Regions from separate parts of the Homo sapiens genome. Here region 2 is linked to region 1. A link means that fine-mapping ties the variant in region 1 to the expression of a gene that starts in the linked region. Tissue or cell type: whole blood. Region 1 holds a variant in brackets; the other region holds the start of a gene. All regions are shown on one strand. Distances are from middle to middle.

What was found. PIP is the estimated chance that this variant, and not a neighbour inherited with it, causes the effect.
Region 2: PKIB starts here. The variant in region 1 is fine-mapped to the expression of PKIB in whole blood (INTERVAL, PIP 0.98).

The regions. Positions count from the first base shown.
Region 1 is chr6:122,703,584-122,712,034 of GRCh38, forward strand. All of the region lies in intron 3 of PKIB (cAMP-dependent protein kinase inhibitor beta), which reads left to right. Among named protein-coding and RNA genes, the nearest start is that of FABP7, 72 kb to the right of the region's middle. RefSeq lists a silencer at 408-608. The variant T/G (reference allele first, on the strand shown) is at 4,941.
Region 2 is chr6:122,605,574-122,614,024 of GRCh38, forward strand. PKIB (cAMP-dependent protein kinase inhibitor beta) reads left to right here and starts at 4,832. Exons shown (of 5, transcript NM_181795.3): 1 at 4,832-4,962. RefSeq lists a silencer at 4,683-4,862 and an enhancer at 5,479-6,124.

The sequences.
Region 1 (8,451 bases):
AAATATGATAATTGGAAATAAAAACAGTGTGTGGATTATGCAGCTGATTAGACACAGCTGAAGAGAGAATAGTGAACTATATACACTTATGATGCAATTCTCTGAAGAATCTAATACACTTATGATGCAGGTGCCGTTCTTATGTAGAGCGTTTTTGCCATTCTTATGTAGAGCTTTTACATATATACATACACACACATATATATACATATATGTATATATGTATATATGTAAAAGCTATATATACACACATATATATGTATATATATGTAAAAGCTCTACGTAAGAACGGCAAAAATGCTCGCTCTCTATATAAAAAACGCTATATATATATGTGTGTATATATATATATATATATAGAGAGAGAGAGAGAGAGAGAGAGAGAGAGAGAAATTGGTTCATGCAATTATGAAGGCTGAGAAGTCCTAAGGCTTTGGCAAGCTAGAGACTCAGGAGAGCTAATGATATGGTTCCAGTTTGTGTTCAAGTCTGATAACCGGGAGACCCACTATTGTCGGTTCCAGGCCAAGTCTGAGTTTAAGGCAAAAGATTGAAGACTGAAGACAGCTTGAAGACAGGCAGAGAAAGAAATTCTCCTTCTCTCTATCTTTTTATTCCATTCAGGACTTCAATGCATGGGATGTGGCCCGCCCATATTGAGAAGGGCAATGTGTTTTATGCAGTCCACTGATTCAGATGTTAATCTTTTCTGGAAACACCCTCACAGACACACCCCGAGAAATGGTTAACCAAGTATCTGAGCACTTTGTAGCCCAGTCAAGTTGGCATATAAAATTAGCCATCACAATTAGCAAACTTCTTAACAGCAAAAATAGAATAATGTGGAATAATATTGTTAGGTGCTTTCATCCTAAAATAGTGTATTTGTAAGAATGAAGATAAAAATAGATCTTTTCAGTCATCAAAAAACTATAGTTCCCAAAAGAATTTCAAAGGCTAAACTCCAGGAGAAAAGGTGAATTATCTCAGGAATTGGAACATGAAAAAAATAACATTGTGGAAATATAACGGTATGATGGATATACACAGAAGACCAATTCTTAAATACTTAGATATATGCTAAGGTATTTAGATATGCAGTGTCATGTTAATGGCAGCTTGCTTTCAGTTGGTGAAATAATAACTGTGTGTGTGTGTGTGTGTGTGTGTTTATGTTTAGAGAGATTAAATATAGCAAAGTGTTGATCATTGAATCAGGTGGAGGCTCCTTCTTGAAACCCCAGTACTTTTGGAGGCCAAGGAGGGAGGATCACTTGAGGCCAGAAGTTTAAGACCATCCTTCAACTCTACAAAAAGTTTTAAAATTAGGCAAGTGTGATGCTGCCCACCTGTAGCTCTAACTATTCGGGAGGCAGACAGGACATTGCTTTTAGCTCAAACAATTGAGGCTGCAGTGAGTTGTGATCATGTCACTGCACTCCAGTCTGGGAAACAGAGGGAGACCTTGTCTAAAAATAAAATATACCAGAAAAACACTATAGCTGAAAGCCATCTATTTAATAATCCTTAGAATTTTTGTCACAAATTATTATAAACAAGATCTATTGTTTCCATGATCAAAAATTTCTCCACCAATATCTAATTTTGTGGTGCCTTTGTGAGTCCTCCAAGATCATCATGGTTCAATGACCACATTGATAATCAAAGCCTTTTTCAGAAATCAATGGACAATAAGAGTGTATTTGTCTATTTCTAGAGTGTCTATTTTATTTTGTATTCTATTTGTCTACCCTTGAGGAATACCACACAGAATTAATAGCCATCAAGTCTGATAGTGTAAGTCCTTTACTTTTTCCTTTCTTTTTGGAATAAGAAGTTATTCTCAGTCTGTAGCATTTTCATATAAATTTTTGGAATCAGCTTATTACTCTATTGTGGTAGATTTGATTTAAAAACTTCACCTTTTAATATGCTTTAATGGTTCTCCTTGACATCTGTCTCTATTTTCAGAAAGCGCATCTTTTTTTTTTTTTTTTTTTTGAGACGGAGTCTTGCTCTGTGGCTACACTGGAGTGTAGTGGCGCAATTTCGACTCACTGCAACCTCCAGCTCCCTGGTTCAAGTGATTCTCCTGCCTTGGCCTCCTAAGTAGCTGGGATTACAGGCACATGCCACCACGCCCAGCTAATTTTTTGTATTTTTAGTAGACATGGGGTTTCACCATGTTGGCCAGGATGGTCTCGATCTCCTGACCTTGTAATCTGCCTGCCTTGGCCTCCCAAAGTGCTGGGATTACGGCATGAGCCACTGCGCCTGGCCAGAAAATGCATCTCATACACACCTTTACTATGTGATTTAGAAGTTTCATGATTCCCTGGTGCTTACAGGATACGTTCACATATTGTTCATGGCATTCATTTTCTTTCCCACTATGTTATGACTATGCTCCAACTCATTTTTCCAACTCCACGTGGGCATAACACTCCATGGCAGCGAAATGTTTCCTTTTCTCTTATTTAGAACTTGCTTTTTGCACTCCCCTCTTTTAGCTTACAGATATTTCTCTGGCTTAGTAAGCCTTTCATTCCCTTTCTACCTGTGTGGATTCCTCCCAAATTTTGAGGCTCTGTGTGTGTTCTACAGCCTTTGTGAAATATTCCTTAATCACCCCAAAATTCAGTAACCATTTATCTTTTACATTTCTATAGTAGTTTTATTTATAACACTTATTTGAATATATCATATATTTACTTCTATTTTTACATTTCCTTTAATATGCAACATATTCCATCTGTACGATGAGTTCACAACTCTTTCAGGGTGGGGACCATATATTAAGCATCTTCATGTGTCCCCACTGTTTCTATCACAATGCTTAGTCTTATTTGCCACTGTTTCCCCAGAGTCTTGCACTGAACGGAAGATATAGTAGATGCTTAACAATAATTGATTGAATGAGGACTGAGTCTGTGCTCAATAAATGTTTGCTGAGGTGTAATTTAAGGAGAAAATAATGAGTTGTGAGATGAAATGGGTTCCAGTCTTGTCTCTGTTACTTGCTAGCTAGGTTTAGCCAAACCCTTTTATTTCTATGATCGTCAGTTTCCTCACCCTTAAAATGAAGACAGTAGTGACTAATCCACAGTGTAGAATCACATGAACAAATTCTCAATAAAGTGCTTTAAAACAATGCATGCTTAACACATGCATATGCCATTTTTCATATCATAAAAATCTTCATTATAGAAAATTTGGAAAAAAGTAAAATTCAACGAAGAAAATAGAAATCATTAATAATAACATACACAAAGGGAATAACTATTATAATTTCAGTATATTTCCCTTAAAATGTTTTTCTGTGAATGTATTTTAAAACTAATATATGCATAGTGGTTTTAAAATTTTGAAAATTTATGTTTTTAAATATTTTAGATATTTTCATGGCCTCATTTTTCTATTTAACTTATATAGTACTAAAGGACTATAGTAACATAATTTTGTACAAAATGTTTTTATAAAAGTTAAATGTATCAATTTAAATAATGCTACTTCTATTAACTTAATTGCAGGTTAATATAAACATGCATAATTTGATGAAAAAATATTTCAATTAGATGATTTTTCTTTCTAAAGTTGTTTGCCCTTTGGTTGGGATTTTTTTTCCTCTATGACCCAGAAAAATTCTCAAAACTACTCTTAATTTTTGTTCCCATAATTTTGATTGAATTTTTTGCTTGCTGCAACGTTATAATGATTTCTTCTGTAAAGTACCGAAGATAACTTAGAAAACAAATCAGAGCTCAAAAAGGCTTAATCATTTCTCTCCTTTTCTTTGTTGGAAGAAAAAAATGAATATTATATTCATTTAAATATGGGCTAAGAGACATCCTAAGAGTTTTTCTTTAAATTGATGAAATAGAAGAAAAAGACACTACCGAAACTGTGGGTGCATTTAAAAAAGCATTATACCTATCTATTTTATACCCATTTTATTTATCCGATTAAAGAAACATTTATAAGTAATTTCAGTACTCAGCCATGTTCCTTGCTTTTTGGCTATGCATATTTTACATAGTTGGTATATGCTCTCTAATGTTAACATTCAAGAAAATTTTATTTTTTCAAAACTGTCATTAGAAATTTTGAATTATGTTGATTTGAGAAAGATTGCATTTTTAAGATATAATAAAATGATATCAAATAAATATCATCTAGCTTCAAACTAAATGGTGTGTAAAATATGTTGTGATATTCTTGTATATGTGCCGCTGAAAAAATTCTGGCAGGTTATGCACCAGAATTACAACAGCACTGTTACTGGATAGCGGGATGGCAATCTCTTTTTCCTTCTTTATGTCTTTTGGAATTGTCCTTTTCCCAACAACAAGCATATATTAATGTCATATGCAAAAAGAAAAAAAATTCATGTTGAAAAGTGGAAAGACAATTATTTTATTTATTGAGTGCTTGCTGAATAAGAATCAGGCATGGCTTTTGGTCCTATGAATACATCAATGAAACAACCTACAAAAACAAAAGCTCTGCTTTGTGGAGCTTACCTTCTAGTGAAGGGAGACAGACAATAAGCAACAACTGCAATCATAAGTAAATGCGAATACATTTTCAAAGCTAGTAAGTGCTAAGAGAAAGTAAGAGGAATTAGAAGCTGGAGGGATGAGATGCAATTTTAAACAAGGTGGTTAAAGCAAGCCCCACTGAGAAAGCAGGACTCTGTCAATATTATCTTTTGTGACCCTTTTTCCTATGCCATATTATCTCATTTTAATATTACTCAGATTAAGAATGCTTTTTTAGGCATCATGAAGAAATCAAGAATTTCAATCCCATTTTAACCATTGGAGAGAACACTGAAACATGGTTTGTTTCTGAAAGTATGTGAAAATTTCACCTTTAGGGAGAAATCTTCCTATGGGCAGTGTAGGGGAGATATGGTTTTCTGTGACTGGTGACTTGTATGG[T/G]TCAGATGTTGCAGAAACGTAGACAGGTTTGAGGGTGTGCTGGGAAGCAGATTGTAAATGATTTTTTGAATGCCTTTTTAAACAATATCAACTTTCTGGAAATGTCTCAGAGTTAATCTCTTTTTCTTGACATGGAGTCTTGCTCTGTTGCCCAGGCTGGAGTGTAGTAGCGTGATCTCAGGTCACTGCAACCTCCTCCTCCCGGGTTCAAGTGATTCTACTGCCTCAGCCTCCTGAGTAACTGGGATTACAGGCATGCGTCACCACGCCTGGCTAATTTTTGTATTTTTAGTAGATACTGGCCAGTAGATATTGGCCAGGCTGGTCTCAAACTCCTGACCTCAGGTGATCTGCCTGCCTCAGCCTCCCAAAACCCTGAGATTACAGGCATGAGCCATCACGCCCAGCTGCGTTAATCTCTTTCTGCCTACAGTCCAACATCAGAGGCTGTCTCTAGAGCCACGTCAACACTGTTGCTTAAAAGAATAATTGATATTCATAATGATACTCTGTCATAGTGCCTATAAATTTATATGACTGATATCTAAATAAATTCCATTTGTGTAGTTGTTAACCAAGCACATTTATAACATTAGTTCATTTGAGTCCAGGGTAGTAAAATAGATAATATAAATCCTACTTTTTAAAAATGTAGAATGCTAATCAACAAAGAAGTTAGATGTCTTTCTAGAAGTTGAAAGTCCAGGATTCAACTTCAGAAGTGTTCACTTTTAGGCGACCAAACTTCCCATTGCTCCATATAGACCGTGTAACAAACAAGAGGACTAAGGGCAGTCACTTTGAGAGTGTGTTAATGCAGTTAAGTAGTGCCCAAAGCTCTGCTTTCAAATCATCATTTAAAATAGTTTTATTTTGAATATGTGCAAATCTAAATTACCTAAGGAGGTTTTGAAAAGTAGCTGAAGTCATTCTTAGTACAAAGAGATGGGATCAAGTGGGAGTTTTTTTTTTTAATTAAAAACAGTTTACTATAAAATACGTTATATTTTAAATAGAACATGTTACCACTATTTGATGTATGAGTATAAAATGAGTTGCAATGATGGAGTCACAAAAACAGTTTCAGAAGTGGAATAAATATGTGGCTACTTAAAGTAATTGCTTTGATAGATGATACTCATTTCCATCTATAAATTTTGGTGTGTTAGTAAAAATAGTTCTATTATTTGGTATCACACTGCATTTTCCCTTTGAAAGATAAATAAGTATATATTAATTATAAATGCTTTCTGAAATGAAAGTTTAAAATTTAAAGTGTCCATGTGTATAACCATCAGATGTCCTAGATGAGGGTCGTACTGTATGAGTTTTTGCAGCAACTACTGCTCTGGCTCTACCAATCCAGGTTTACTACCCACATCTAAAAACCATTGTATTTGCCATTAGTCTACAGCCTGACTCCTATCTATTTTGATGTTAACAAAACAAAATCTATTTTAATACTGAATAACTGAACTTTCAGTCTTATTATTTATTTACTTTTGATCTTTATTATGAATATTAATAATGTAAAGGACCTTCATTTTCAGCTCATAATCGATAGGTATCAGCTATTAATTCAACATTGATTTATTGATTGTATTAAGCAGATATGTTCCAGTCTCTCTACTAGGCAGAGGGATATGAAGCCATTTCTATTGTGACCACATTGGTAAGAATTAACTTCCCCTTCTCTTCTTCCTACTGATGTCATAAACCGCCATTTGACATTTTAAAACCATATATCTCATTGAAAAGGGAACTGACTTTTTAGGCCTTGCATGTAAACCCCCAACACAGACGGCCGTGTTCCCTCTTTGTAGGGAAGAGTACAAGCAGACCACAAGAACTTCAAAATCACATTGTACACAAGAACTTCAAAATCACATTATTTTCCCACTAGGGCAAATTCAGTGCTGGGGATTTTGTGTACTTGGAGTGTATTTGTGCCCCCTTTGAAATCTAAGAATACTTTGTGTACAATAGTAGTTGGAAAAGCAACTAAATGAGAAATGGGTGGTCTGAGGGCAGCCCTTCTCTGAAATTTGCTTACTTATTTTCTGGGGTTCCATTAAATGCTGTGTTCCCTGTGAAGCCTGGCCTCATTTTCTATCCTGGAATTAAGCGCTGCCTCCACTGCTCACGTGGTAAAGGTGCTAGCACGCAGCCTTCACAGACTGCCAGTTAAGGCATGGGAAGACCTTACTTACTGTGCCAAATTCCACAGTATCTAGCGTGGGGCTTTGCAGAGTTGGTGTTACATAAATGCTTTTTGAATTGAACCCTAACTTCTTTAAGCAGGCTCCAGTACCTCAATAAAATAAGAACCAACAATATTTGAGTCACTGGTTAGAAAGAATAATGTGAAACAAATGAAAGTGAAGGAGTATAAATAGGGTTTGAGGTAAGGTGGGAAAAAAAGAATGAGAAGGGTTTCTTCAAATCCGTGCTAAATCCTCTCAATTCTGAATACTCTGAAGCTAGAAATAAAAGCTAAACTATATAAAATGTAGACAGTAGGGATGCTTTGCTATGGTTATAACCACTTATATTCATCTAAAGGAGAAGTGAAAATATCACTGTATTCTGGATAACACCCAATATACATAGCACACACACACAAACACACACACCACACAGGGACACACACACCCCACTCAAGCTAATGTATTAAAAAGGAAACCTGTTTAATTTTTAGAAAGACTTTTTCATATACAGTGAATTTTCTTTTTTATTTTTATCCCTGTAGATAGCTGGGTTTGTTTTTGTTTTTTGTTACGGAAAGCAGCAGGAGGAATCATGGTAATGGAAGAAAGAGTACCGCCTAAACTTAGGAAAGACTTTGACACAAATTAAGCTATGTTATATTGATGCATCACTTAAGTGTCTGGATCTGGAAGTCTGGACTATATCATCTTTTCAAATGTAATATCCTGCAATCATGTGAGAAATTTATTAGTCCTTTTGGGAATCTGCAAGTGGTTGGGAGAAGCCCAACTAACTCCCTGCAAACCTTTATGGAGGATACATGTTGAATAAGTCTTTCTAGTATGAAACTAAAAAGAATAAGATGACCAGTTAAATCTGACTCCCCCAAACACAGACACATACTCAAGGAGGCTACATAGTTTATTGCAGTCCATCTTTTTTATCATTAACAACATTCATGTATATTAGTATTGTAAGTGGCCTTATGTTAGTATAAGAAGTAACATTGTGCTGGAAGGGTATTCAGCTTTGTGCATTAATTTATCTGGAAAATTATGAAAAAATTAATTTGACTTTGCATTTTGAATTTTATATGTTTAAGCTGTCAAAAATTCTCTGTGGTAAAAATAACTTCCATGTGCCTACCAATGTATATTGAAGGATCTGTCTATGCAATTAGCAAGCAAGAACATAAACATTAAAAAATGTGCGTGTCAACAAACCAAAGGTAGGGTTCCCTTTGACTTACACTAGAGACAGAGAAATACCATCTTTTGAAAAATTTCAAAGACAGGAAAGTTTC
Region 2 (8,451 bases), 98 kb before region 1:
TATATTTTTAGGAAAGGGTGAGATATGGTCATCCTGTAGACTCTCCCTTAATACCAAGGAACCACATATGTCCTCTGGAATGGAGAGTGGGCGAATCCTCCCCTCCCCTCCAAGAGGGAAGCCAACTTCCTCAGTTCTTTGTAACCACACTTCTCACTGTCCCAGGTACATGACTTCTCAGTGGTTTTTGTCCCCAAGGCAGATAGCTACTCTCAGGGGTGTAAAGACTCTGGGCAGCTCTAATCTTCTGATTTTCATATGTATTAAATATCACAGTTTGAAAGCTTTAGAAACATTGATAAGGTTCATATTATTGTAGTTATCTTTGCCAAATAGACCTGAAGAGCTATCATGCCAGTGTCATCCAGCCTTGCTATTCCTCTGGCCTCCATAGACTTGGCTACAGTGGACTGAATGGTGGTCTCTAAAAAGATATGTCCATGACCTAACCTCTGGTACCTGTGAATTTGACTTTACTTGGAAAAAGGATCTTCGAAGATGCAATTAAAGTAAGGATCTCCAGGGGAGATCATCCTGGATGAACTGGGTGGATGCAAAATCCAATGACAAATGTCCTTATAAGAAGAGGGGAATACCAATGCCAACAGTAGAGAAGAAACATAGGGAAGATGTGAAAATGGATGCAGAGATTGGAGTTATGTAGCTATAAGCTAAAGACAATCAAGGATTGCCTGTGGCCATTAAAAGCTAGAAGAGGGCTGGGCATGGTGGCCCACGCCTGTAATCCCAGCACTTTGGGAGGCTGAGGCAGGCGGATCACCTGAGGTCAGGAGTCCAAGACGAGCCTGGCTAACATGGTGAAACCCCGTCTCTGCAAAAATGCAAAAATTAGCAGGGTGTGGTGGCATGTGCCTGTAATCCGTGCTACTTGGGAGGCTGAGGCAGGAGAATCGCTCGAACCCAGGAGGCAGAGGTTGCAGTGAGCAGAGATCGCGCCATTGCACTCCAGCCTGGGTGACAGAGTGAGACTCTGTCTCAAAAAAGAAAAAAAAAGCTAGAAGAGACAAAAGAGGGTTCTCCCCTGAGTCTTTACAGGAAGTGATACCCTGCCAACACTTTGACTTCAGACTTCTGGCTTCCAGAATTGTGAGAGAATAAATTCCTTCTGGTGTAGGTCACCAAATTTGTGGTAATTTTTAATGGCAACCCTAAAAAAACTAACCCACCAGCATATAAAAACATGGAGTATGATGATGGTAACTACTGTCCACTTCTTCTGCCCAGGTGTCAGCCAGCCTGGCCCTAAAGAGATGTGAAAACTAGATCTCACTTGAAACCTTGCAGCCACATCCTTCTCCCTGCATCTCTTGGTCTTCCCTCAAAATACAAACTTCTGCATTTAGTCTTTCCCAAACTTTAATCCCTAGAAGGTAAATACTGATTCTTGCTTCACCCATGCAAGAATTTCTACTTTCTTCCACACAGCATTGGTTATATAATTTGCTGGGCTCAATGAAAGATGAAAATGCAAGTCCCCTTGGTAAAAAAAAAAATAATAATAATAAATAAATAAATAAAATAAAATAAAATAAAATATTTCAATGCAGGGACAGGGGAGCATTAAACATTGCACAGGGCCTTCTTAAAAGTAGATCCTGAGCAAGGCATGTGGCTTATGCCTGAAATCCAAACACTGTGGAAGGCCAAGACGGGTGGATCGCTTGAGCCCAGGAGTTCGAGGCCAGCCTGGCCAACATAGCAAAACCCCGTCTCTACAAAAAAACAAAACAAAACAAAACAAAACAAAAAAACAAAACAAAAAAACCCACAAAAGTTAGCCAGGTGTGGTGATGTGTGCCCGTAGTCTCAGCTACTCTGGAGGCTAAGGTGGGAAGATTGCTTGAGCCTGGGGGGCCAAGTCTGGAGTGAGCCGAGATTGGGCCACTGCACTCCAGCCTGGGTGAGAGAGTCAGACTCTGTCTCAAAAACAAACAACACGTAGATCCCTGCTCAACTGAACAGGTCATAGACCCACGAAGCCAGCCCTACCTCCCACCTCTTAACTACTCTGACCTTGGAGAATCCTCATTTAATATTGAAAAATACCACCAACCTCATAAACTATTTACACAATGCTTTCTCCATTTTCTGGCCTTAAGTGGAAATAAGCTTTCTTCTAAGAATTATTTCCCCTAGATGTCCCTTTGATATAGACTGTTCATTGTTTCACATTCTAGGGTCACAGGGGCAGTGTTGGGATCCTTGTAACTCCCCAGTATTACTTCTGAAGTCTTAATTGTCTCTTTTACCAGTCCTTGATCCACTTACGTTTTTCCTCCCTGGATATGCACCTTCTGCCCCAACTTTGCATAGTCATCCTCTCAGTTCTGGATCAGTCCACTACATTCACGGAAGTGTTTGTTATCAAACTCACTCCTTTTTTCATTCTGGTATTACTGTTGGTGGCTTCAATGTCCATATAGTTTCTTCAATACCTTAGTCCCTAATGTCTTGATCTTCGTTCTACGTCAGCCAACCCCACCCTTAGCTCTTCCATAAACTGTCTATCTTTGTACTTCTAAAACTTCAAAGAAAACGATCCCATTTCCTGACTACAACTTATCTCTCTCATTTGATGTGGATTTGTAGTTCTTGGACTCTTCCTTCTTCTCCCCTCTTTGTCCTCACTTATTTTCCTATTTATTCTTGTTAACCTTAAAACCTTGTCTTAAAAATAGTATCCAAGCTTGCTCCTTGTCTTTTCATCACATCACTTGGCACAATCCCAAAGTTGGATTAAACTTTCTGCATTTAAAGGCATATATTTGACACAAATTCACAATTCACATGATTGTGTGGAATTACTGCTACCACCAATTCTTGGACTCAAAAACTCCTCCTTGCACTTATGGTCAGGTCGTGTCTAACATTTGCAAAAGCAGCTACTGCAAACCTTTCCGCATCTTCTCCTTACTTTCCTAGTAGAAATGAGAGGCCATCAAAAATCTTAAATCTAAATAGACAAAAGCATTCTATAAATAGTGTTCTTATAAGTCATTATTTGGTCTTAAGTGTGGAAACAAAGTTAATACTTATTCATTTCAAAACGGCCTGTAGAGTACCTACTTTGTGAAGGTACTATTCTAGGTGTTGAGGATATGGCCTTCATGGGCCATACATTCCAGTGGTTCTGATGATTTCATATGTAGGTTAAAAGCTTAGCAGTGAGGTCTAGTGGTTTTCTCACATTGATCCCAAAATACAGATTTTACAAAGCAAAATTTTCAAGTATAGGAAATACACTTGCAGGATCATAAAAATCCAATCATGATACCATAATTCATAAGTTCAAACATTTTAGTATCACTCTCTGTCATAGTACCTCTAAAATAAATAAACCTTAGAATAATTTGCCCTAGATAATAAAAATATATGTTATTATATAATATAATAATAACAGGCCTTAGCAGTATGCCAGATAATAAGTTTTAAAGTTACACTAATGATATAAATAACTCTCAGTCTCTTTGATTAATGCTTGTGTAACCACACAAGTAACTATATTTTTATTAGGCGGGTGCAGAAGCTACTGCAGTTTTTGCCAGTACTTTTTTGCAATTACTTTTGCACTAACCTAATACAAAACAAAATGTGCCTACATCACAATTCAGAAAAATCACAGCTTTATTAGCAGAGTATAATTTAAGGAAGTCAATCAATCCTGAAGGCAGAAAGACCTAAGTTCAAAACTGATTTGGAATCTTCTCAGCTATTTAGCCTTGTTCAAAGTATCTAACCTTGCTGAACCTCAGTTTACTATCTGAAAATAGAGAAAATTATTACTATATTGTGGAGGTATGAATATTGAATAATTTAAAGAACTTGATTGTACTACCATTAGCACACACTGAATAAAATATTAGTCTGATTATATTTTCGTATTTCCATATTTAGGCTTTTGCCTAAAAAGGGAATTTGGAAGTGGTCATTGGCAGGTGTCATAGGCTTTGGGTGGCAAGTCAGAGCATAGTATGAATGAGCAAATTAGTAAAGACTAGAGATAAGAGAAGACTTTGAGTACTAATTAAGAGTTTCAGGAGACCAGAGGAGATTTTAAGACTTCAGTGAGAAACCACTTTCTCAGGAAGCAGATAAATTAATTTTATCAGCAGTATCGTCGTCCATGTAATATGGCTTTTAAAAAGCACAGTGAGACCTTAGTAGTAACGACTTTATTTTTCTTAGTGAGAACCTGAAAGTGAAACTTGATATACATTATTTTCTGCTTTTATTGCACAAAAAGTTGTTTCCATTGCATATTGCTTCCTAATCTGTTAAAATAATCTGTTAACAAACTCGAAGACCCAGATTCGGGGCGTAGATAAGCCTGTGTACCTTCCTACCTTCTCCAAACAGCCAACATTAGATCAAAGGGCAACCTTAATGACACCTGGAGCACAAACCCTGCTCAGGGCGCGTACAACCGGAGGGACAGAAAACACGATGCGACGTCGGAAAGCAGGAAGGGAATTGAAATTCCCGCAGTCACGTCACAGAAATCTTAGCAGAACCTCATCATCGCCCAAGGGAACTGGGAGTGGCGGGCGGGGAGGACGCGGGTTGTGTGACGATCACCGATAATTAGTTGGTGGTTAACGCACAAGTAGGATAAAAGAGCTCGCCCCAGGCTGCCAGCAGAAAAAAGCTACCGTGGCACGTGCCCCGGGGAGTGATGCGGTGGCCCGGTTTGCACGGAGAGCGGGACACCGCCTGGGGAGCCGCGCTCGTAGCCTGGGGGCGGGACGCGGCGGCCGCTCCCTCCGCCCCCGAGTAGCTGCCACCGCCTGGCTGCGCCCCAGCCCAGTAGCTCAGACGCGGCCGCATCCCGGTGGACTGTAGAGGCGGCAGCGAGCTAGAGCCCGAGTCGCAGCTCCGGGCCGCAGAGCGCTGGGCGAGCGCGAGCGCCAGGGCACCGGCAGGGCAGGCAGCTGCGCGCGGCTGGTACGTACCTGGTGGAGCGGGCGCGTGAGTGGGTGTCCCTATGCGAGGAGGGAGGAGTGGGACTTGGGAAGTCGGGGGAGACTGACCCAGGGAAGATGTGGTAAGTGCAACTTTCCTATTTTCTGCCCTGCTGGCACAAATATGGGGGGAGTTCGAAGCAGATGCCTCTTTCGCTTGGGCGACCCGATCCATCGTTTAACTCACAAGTCAGGGTACTTAGAGAGTGAAAAGGACGCTCACGCCAACAGGCGTGACGTGGGAGGTCTGTCACCTGCCTTTTGCCCACTCTGCCCTGCAGGTGGCCATTGATGACCTCCTGTCACAAGTCGCTGAGTCCTTCGGCTCTCGCGCCAGCAATGCCAAGTCTTTCCCCTGGGCGGTGCTTACCAAGCCCCGGGTAGTCACGAGCGGCCGCGGGGTTAGCAGAGACCCGAGTACTAACCCGCTCGGCCAGCGTCCGGCTGTGTGGCTTTAGCCAAGTCACCTCACCTCACTGGCCTCCGTCCATTCTTTGGATAAAATATGGAGGTGGGTAGACCGAGTAAACTCAAGGGTCGCCCGTAGCTATTGGATTTTCCCTGCTCCTAGGACCCCGGCAGGCCGCAGGGAGGGACACGAGTGCCAGGTGGTCGCGGGCTGAGGGAGCGGAGGGCCTGTGTTCCGGTTGGTGCTGATGCTAGCCCCTTGGGGAAATTCCTGAAGGTGCATTTCGGAGCCAAATGACCCTGCCTTGCAGCAGGTCCCTTCCAAGGGAGCTGAGAGGGCCAGGTCAGACCGGTCTTCGTAGAGCTCCCCGGGGAACGCAGCCAACGGAACTCGGGTCCTTTAGAAAAGTGCATGCGTGAACTAGGCATGTGGGAAGCACTAAAACAAACAACAAACAAACAACAAAACACCCTGCAGGTGGTAGTGTTATTAGCTGGAGTCTGTGCAGGACTGGAAAGTGGAGATTTGAGGCGAATGACCACTTAAACGTTCATCTAGAAAAAAAATTTTAAAAAAACTCTTTTATCAGTGGTTTGCATACTGAAAGGTATTGAATTAGAAATATTGCGAGTATTGCATTTCTCTTCGTGTACAGATAGATTTCAAAATTCATCTGTCCACTTTATCTCTTCACAAGATGCCTTCCTTCTTACTGACATTGCCACACATTCAAAAAAAATCCTCCTGGGATTTTATATTTAGAAAGCTCAGCATTTGGATTATTAAAATGAGAACTGATGACCATAATGCTCACGGAAAATGGGGTAGGTTATGGATCAAGTTTGGTTAAATCAGCAGTTTATAAACCTTGTTTCCTGTTAGTGTGCCGGGTGCTGGTCAATGCCCCCCTAGTGACACTATCTCAAGAGATCATTTGCTAAAAAGGTGTTTTGGAAGTTCAAAAGATTCGATTTTGAAGGAAAGTATAGCTTTGGAAAGGAAATCTTTTGGAAAACGTTTTTAGTAATGGACTTCTCAATCTTATCTTTACCACAACTTTCTTCAATAAAATATCAAAGACTAATGGACCACATTATGCAGAATATTTTAAAATGTGTCAAATTTCATTTTTGTTAAAGAGTTTTTCCTCCTTTTTAGTCGATTGCAAACATATTGTTTAGATCAATGATAGATCAATTTAATTTTCCTCACAGTTCTTACAATTATTTAAATTCTTACGCAGTTTGCATTACAGCATTTTTTTACAACTTTATTGAGATATAATTTATATATTATAAAGTTCACCCTTTAAGGGTGAATAATATTTAAAAATTATATTTCAGTGAGTTTTAGAAAATTTGTTAATTTTCTAAAAGTTGTAAAACCATTACCATATCTGGTTTTAGAACATTCCAAAATTGTAAAACCATTACCATATCTGGTTTTAGAACAGTTTACTCACTTGGTAAGATTCCTTATGTCCATTATGTCTTTGTTCCCACTCCCATTCCCAGGCAACCATTAATCTACTTTCAGTCTATAGATTTGCCTTTTCTGAACATTTTATATAAATGGAATGATATACTATATGGTCTTTTGCTTATGGCTTCTCTTACTTAGCATAATGTTTTTGGGGTTCAGCTATGTTGTGGCATGTATCAGTATTTCATTTCTTCTTATTGCTGAATAGTTTTCCATTGTATGGATATACCACATTTTGTCAATTTACTAGTGGATGGATATTTGGGTTGTTTCCAATATGGGAATATTATGAATCATGCTGCTGAGAACATTTGCATTCAAGTGTTTGTGAGTACCCGTTTTCATTTCTCTTGGGTAGATGCTTAACAGTGAAATTGGTAGGTTGTATGACAAACTTGTGTCTAACTTTTAAGGAACACTATAGAGTAATTTTTGTAGAAGTTATATATATAAAAATTTAAAAAATTCTGGAAAAATAAATGTTTCTTACTGGATCATATATGATGTTATATGTATATAGAGAGAGGCTTGGGAGAGGAACCATTGCTTCTCTTCAAATTTAGAGCTGAGGTACAGCAAACACTTTTGAAAAAAATGTCGCAATATTTCTCAGAAACGAGATATTTCTTGCCTAATGTTTTTTAATGCTAAATGAGCATGAATCAGGCTTAATCAAGACTAAATTTTCATTAATGTCAATTGAAAATGAGAAAGCATGCAGTTTGAAAATTGTATTTTAAGTGTTGAGACTTAGCCAGCTCTGAATGGCTGGACAATAAATTCGGTGGTTTTCCATTTCTTCAATGCAAAATTTTAATTGAGTTAGAAAAAACAAAATTATTCTTTCCTCAACATCAAAAATAAACTATACGTCTTGTGAACTATATGTCTTGTGATAAGCATTGTTAATCATGATTCCATATAATTATTTTAAATAATAATTAAGCATATTCTATTAGTAGATTTAGGGATCTAAGGCCCAAGAGTAAGTGATTTCCATATACAAAAATCACATATTAGACCAGGGCTCTGGTTTTCCTGTTTTAAAACTTCCCCCATTAGTACATGTTCCTCTAAATCCTGTTAGTTTCAGACATTTTCATATGTTATATGTACTTTAAAAAAGTCATTACCAGGTAGTGACATTACATGGAAATAATCTAGGTTAAGCACTTGAACATCCCCATAAAATCAAAGACAGCTACTATTTTTTATTTTTATTAGAAGTACAACTGGTTTTGGCCCTGCGTGGTGGCTCATGCCTGTAATCCCAGCACTTTGGGAGGCTGAGGTGGGCGGATCACAAGGTCAAGAGGTAGAGACCATCCTAGCCAACATGGTGAAACCCCGTCTCTCTAAAAATACAAAAATTAGCTGGGTGTGGTGGTGCACACCTGTAGTCCCAGCTATTTGGGAGGCCGAGGTAGGAGTATCGCTTGAACCCAGGAGGCAGAGGTTGCAGTGAGCTGAGATGGCACCACTGCACTCCAGCCTGGTGACAGAGTGAGACTCCATCAAAAAAAAAAAAAAAAAAAAAGAATTACAGTTGATTTTGAGAAATCAAATGGATATGCTACTTTT